Homo sapiens: one gene and its partner. The protein of the gene in region 2 purifies or fractionates together with the protein of the main gene of each other region. This does not show direct contact. Each region holds a gene or a part of one and is shown on either strand. Other genes may lie near its edges.

What was found.
Region 1: the proteins of ZDHHC19 (region 2) and DSG1 purify together in Homo sapiens (affinity purification with mass spectrometry; one large-scale study listed by BioGRID and IntAct). This does not show direct contact.

The regions. Positions count from the first base shown.
Region 1 is NC_000018.10:31,331,575-31,335,237, forward strand, and holds part of DSG1 (desmoglein-1 preproprotein), read left to right. Parts: intron 1-126; coding exon 127-293; intron 294-2,014; coding exon 2,015-2,149; intron 2,150-2,442; coding exon 2,443-2,628; intron 2,629-3,663. UniProt on the Homo sapiens protein: Component of intercellular desmosome junctions. Involved in the interaction of plaque proteins and intermediate filaments mediating cell-cell adhesion.
Region 2 is NC_000003.12:196,199,140-196,201,526, reverse strand, and holds part of ZDHHC19 (palmitoyltransferase ZDHHC19), read left to right. Parts: intron 1-2,004; exon of another isoform or gene 2,005-2,181; intron 2,182-2,387. UniProt on the Homo sapiens protein: Palmitoyltransferase that mediates palmitoylation oproteins, such as RRAS and SQSTM1. Catalyzes palmitoylation of RRAS, leading to increased cell viability.

The DNA.
Region 1 (3,663 bases), on a different chromosome or scaffold from region 2:
AGGGAAGACAGTGAAGTCCACATCATAAGGATCAACTAACTCTAACACTTTTTTGGAAAGGTGATATACTCTACTGTAACAAAAATGTAAATCACCCATTTGCAATCAATTTTCCTTAATTTCTAGATACACTGGTGATGATACTCAATGCTACTGACGCAGATGAACCGAACAATTTGAACTCAAAAATAGCCTTCAAGATTATAAGACAAGAACCTTCAGATTCACCAATGTTTATTATCAACAGAAATACTGGAGAAATTCGAACGATGAATAATTTTCTAGACAGAGAGGTAATTCTTTTTCTTTAAGTGGGTTTTTGGTCTCAAAGGAACTGATTCTAAAAGCAAGGATACTGAAGAGACAAAGAGATGAAGAAAATGATGGTTTAAATTTTTACTTGTATAACTTTTTCACATAATTCTTTCATGTAAGAAATATTTTTTAAATGAAAAAGGGAGGATTTTTCAATTACGTTTTGTACTATTTTTCATATAATTAATTGATTAAAATTTACTTCAATTTAAGAAAACTATATTGTGAAAGTACATGAAAATATGCCTAAGGTAGAATCTAAGGTAGAATCAAAAGCTCCATTTCTCTAAAAAGTGTGTTCTATAATAAAATGAATTTAGGAATGACTTGCTATATGTCCACGTTTTGGTGAGTTACAGTGCATGCGAGTATGCTGGAGGCTCCAGGAATATTGATACACTAAGTTCTCTTTCTTTAACCTAGCATATCTAAGCTCCATTGACAACAGAATTCTTGTTTTTCCTATGTAACATCTATTGATAGCTCACCCATTCATTTACTTTGGGAAATGAACCACAGGATAAGAATGATGGATAGGAATTAAATGACAGACTGACCAATCTTTTTATTTACAAATAAGAAAATAACTAGTGATGTTAACAGAGTAAAATCAGCATTATGAGGTTTCTAGCATGCCTTGTGATTTTATGATTTAGTTTTAAAATAAGTGCTTTTTCATTATTTAAAAAAAATTGTCTTTTAATAGAATGTTGCAACCTAAATGTACATTAGGAGCATAAGTGAGGAAGCTTTATTTTCTGATGGTATTCAATTAATTTTGTTTTAATTATTAAAAATGACAATCTTCTTGCTGATGACTTTTAGGTTTAGGATAATTCATATTATTTTAATACTCTTTAATTATCTAAATGTTACAAGTTTCTATGTTACCTAAGTCTCCTTTTATACATGTTTGAAAATCAACATTAGAAGAAATTGAATGTTTACACTTTTCTCTCTCAAACTGTCTTAAACAGCCCAATGAGGTTTCTTTCATGTCAAAAGAGCTTTCGTGGTAAAGCACTGTAAGAAAGGGCTGTCAGAAGGAAAGGGACTCTGCAGCCATTGGGAAGCCACCAGGGCAGATATTCTCAACCTGGGGTCAATGGAGAGACCTCAAGATGTCTCTATAAAACCCCCTAAATTATATCCACCATTTTGAATGAGTGTGCATTTTTGCATGAGTCAAGGAAAGCCTCCATAGATTTTACCAGCTTCTAGAAATATAAGCACCATTGAATAGAGTCAAGAATAGATACATCACCAATAATTCCACTGCCATAACCCACTACCTCTCAAAACACAAAGCTTTGTTATCTGTTTATATGCTTCTTGCACACTCGGGGGCTGATTATTTAGGTTATGGAATATTCATGCCATAAATTTTTGGTAAACTTAATCTCTCTCCTTGAGATCATTCTGGTTTGTTTTACCCTTTATAAACTTTTTCAACCTCTGGACATATTATTATTAATAAGAAATGAAGCCTTTTAAAACGTGTTGCATCTTTTAAATAATGCGTGATAAGTATTATTGGGAATAATCATGTGAAACTTGTGGATTTCCCATATTCTGTGTTAACCCTACCTCTATCATAGATTTATGTAAACGTTGAGCCAACTTTTCAAAGAACTTTACATAAGACAAAGTAAAGGCTGTCTACGTCAAGTGTGATATTGCCTGTAATATGTATTTTTAGCAATACGGCCAGTATGCTCTTGCTGTAAGAGGCTCTGACCGAGATGGCGGGGCAGATGGCATGTCAGCGGAATGTGAGTGCAACATTAAAATCCTCGATGTCAATGATAATATCCCTTACATGGAACAGTCTTCAGTAAGTATTTGTTCTTGGAATTAATAAATCTAAATTCGCTATATTCTAAAACATATACGAACAATTCTGCTTACAGAGGCACATGTTATGTTTATTGACATACAACCCAAATGTAGACACATACTTTTTTCTTGTGTTTATGCAAGAATAAATGGAGTTAAGCAATGAAAAATGAGATGAAAACCACAGATATCTTTTCTAAATAATGAAGTTATCAACATTCCAGTATAAGCCTACTGTAGTTCTCTCTCTTTCACACAGTTTGTGCTAAGAGTTTTCACTTCTTGTTTCAGTATACCATAGAAATTCAAGAAAATACTCTAAATTCAAATTTGCTCGAGATTAGAGTAATTGATTTGGATGAAGAGTTCTCAGCTAACTGGATGGCAGTAATTTTCTTTATCTCTGGAAATGAAGGAAATTGGTTTGAGATAGAAATGAATGAAAGAACAAATGTGGGAATTTTAAAGGTTGTTAAGGTATGGTATAATTATCCTAAATATTTTGTTTTCTTAATCTTTTTTCAAAATGTTAAACTTAAAATAAAATGATGCTAACATTTCACAAACTTGGCTTAGTGAAAGAATAAAAATTACTGTGTTTTAAATATATATATAACATAGAGCTTTTTAATATAGTCTTTCTGCTTATAATCATTTTAGAAAAACAGGTATTGAATTTTAACTGGAGACAGTTTGTCAATACAGTACTCCCAAATAGATCATATAAATTGAAAACACTTAAAAATATATTTTATGCTTACAACAAAGTATAATTAATCCTTAAGGTTAATGTCTTAAGAACTTTTTAAAGCATATTTAATAGAGGCTTTAAAACTGTGTCCATGTCAACATTGTAAGTCAATTATTACACATGTAGAATATTCATCATGTAAATAAAAATGTATTTATTCCTCCCGCGTGTTTTCATAAAATTTAAGTTAAATTACTATAAATGTAGAATTATCACACTCCCATCTCACTGTGGCTGCTGATCAAGGCTTATTAGGAACACAGATATACTGGAAATTTGGTCCAAGTCAACCGGTCCAGAACAACTGGATGCCGTTCTCTTATGTCCTCCCCATATTAATGGTCCACATTTACCTGCAGTAAAATTTCATCTGAGATGTGAGAAAAAAAATTTGCCTCCTAGGGAGCTGATAGTCAAAGTTTCGCCCTGTGCTACACAACTTACACAGTCGATTTTTAAAATCTACAACAGCTGTTTATGGATTGTATATGTTGCATGCAATATATAGTTTCATGGTAAAATATAATCCCTATTTAACTATTTCTTTTTTCAGACTAGGTCTGGAAAACAGACTCTCAAACGACTCTGTCCCCATACGAATGTGTGGCTTTTTGCCTCCTGTGTCTTCTTAAAGTGTCACCATGCCTACAGCTTGTATTTAATTTGAGACAGTACGCAGGTGCTTTAGTTTATCCCTCACAGCATCCCTGCAAATTAGGTTATATTATTTCCATATTGCAGATAAAGACATTGAGGCTCCA
Region 2 (2,387 bases):
GGTCTCGAACTCCTGGCCTCAAGTGATCCACCCGCCTTGGCCTTCCAAAGTGCTGGGATTACAGGTGTGAGCCACGGTGCCCGGCCAAGAGCTGTTGGTTTCATTCATATCTGAAAGCATCTTGCGTGGGAGAGGCAGGTACAAATGTATTGGTCAGTTTTGGCCCGGTGCGGTGGCTCACGGCTGTAATCCCAGCACTTTGGGAGGCCGAGGTGGGCGGATCATGAGGTCAGGAGTTCGAGACTGGCCAACACAGTGAAACCCCGTCTCTACTAAAAATACAAAAATTAGCTGGGCGTGATGGTGGGTGCCTGTAATCCCAGCTACTTGGGAGGCTGAAGCAGAAGAATCGCTTGAACCCGGGAGGCGGAGGTTGCAGTGAGCCAAGATCGTGCCACTGCACTCCAGCCTGGGCGACACAGTGAGACTCCGTCTCAAAAAAAAGAAAAATGTATGGGTCAGTCTTATGAATTTATTAAAGATCATCATTCCTTTAAGCATTTTTCTATGCCTCATATACAATCAACATTTTTCTATACCTTATATACATCTAATAAATAAAAATTTATTTCCCTAATGCCGGGTACAGTGACTCACACCTGTAATCCCAGCCCTTTGAAAGGCTGAGGTGGGAAGATCGCTTGAGGCCAGGAGTTCAAGACCAGCCTGGGCAACATAGCCAGACCCCATTCCTGCAAAAAAAATTAAAAATTGGCTGGGCATAGTGGTGCATGCCTGTAGTCTCAGCTACTTGGGAGACAGAGGTGGGAGGATCCCTTGAGCCCAGGAGTTTGAATTTGTGAGGACCTATGATCACTGCACTCCAGCCTGGGCAACAAGAGCAAAACTGCGTCTAAAAAAAAAAAAAAAAAAGGCCAGGCGTGGTGGCTCACGCTTGTAATCCCAGCACTTTGGGAGGCCAAGGTGGGCGGATCACGAGGTCAGGAGATCGAGACCATCCTGGCTAACACGGTGAAACCCCGTCTCTACTAAAAATACAAAAAATTAGCTGGGCGTGGTGGCGAGCACCTGTAATCCCAGCTACTTGGGAGGCTGAGGCAGGAGAATGGCGTGAACCTGGGAGGCGGAGCTTGCAGTGAGCTGAGATCGCGCCACTGCACTCCAGCCTGGGTGACAGAGCAAGACTCCATCTCAAAAAAAAAAAAATTATATATATATATACATATATATATATATATCCCTAAATTTTAAAATTCTGTCAATATATTTTTATTAGATTTTAGTTTTTCTAGAGACAGGGTCCCACTCTGTCATTCAGGCTGGAGTGCAGTGGCGTAATCATAGCTCACTGCAGCCTCGAACTCCTAGGCTCAAGGGATCCTCTCATCCCAGCCTCCCAAGAAGCTGAGACTACAGGTGCACAATGCCACAGCCACCTATTTTTATTTTTTTAGAGATGAAAGTCTCAGGCTGGTCTTGAACTTCTGGGGTCAAGAGATCCTCCCTTCTCCACCTCCCAAAACACTCGGATTACAGGTGCCAATCACCATGCCTGGCCCAAATTCCATAAATTTAATCAAAATCTTCTAAATGACTAATACAATACCAGTTTCTTTTTTCTGAGCCAGAGTGTCGCTCTGTCGCCCAGGCTGGAGTGCAGTGGCATGATCTCGGCTCACTGCAACCTCCGCCTCCCGGGTTCAAGCGATTCTTCTGTCTCAGCCTCCCGAGTAGCTGGGATCACAGGCACCCGCCACCACGCCTGGCTAATTTTTTGTATTTTTAGTAGAGATGGGGTTTCACCATGTTGGCCAGGCTGGTCTCAAACTCCTGACCTCAAGTGATCCACCTGCCTCGGCCTCCCAAAGTGCAGGGATTACAGGCGTGAGCCATCTCACCCGGCCAATACGTTTCTTTTACATGCTTTAAATACCTTAAAGTAGGCAGAATCTCAAATAGTGCAAGGATGCGTATTGCCCTATGGCAACAGTGAGTGGCGACAGTGAGCTGTTATGGAGCTGTCCAGACTTTTCCTCCCTCCAGTGAGTGCCAGCTGTCCTTGCATGGAGTCCTGGTTCCTTTGGTGGAGAATGGTGTTGAAAATCTCAGCCTTTGCGGCGGAGAGCGGGGACATGGGACACAGGGGAGTTGGTGGTGGGCAGAGATGCTGCTGGGCCACTTTCAGTGACAAAACATGACAGCAAAGGCTCTTGAAGTCAGGTGAGGCCCAGCCTGCCCTGTGGCGGAGAGGGAGTTTGGGAGGGGGTGAGGTGGATGGGTAGAGTGAGTGGGCGAAGGGGAGAGAGGAGGGAGAGAACCTGATCAAGGTCAAGAGTGCCCAGGGGACGACTTGGCCTTTACCGCATTGCGTGTTCAAGGCTTTTAGCCCAGATTTTCCTGGGCCATGTGATCATGGTTAGGGAAAT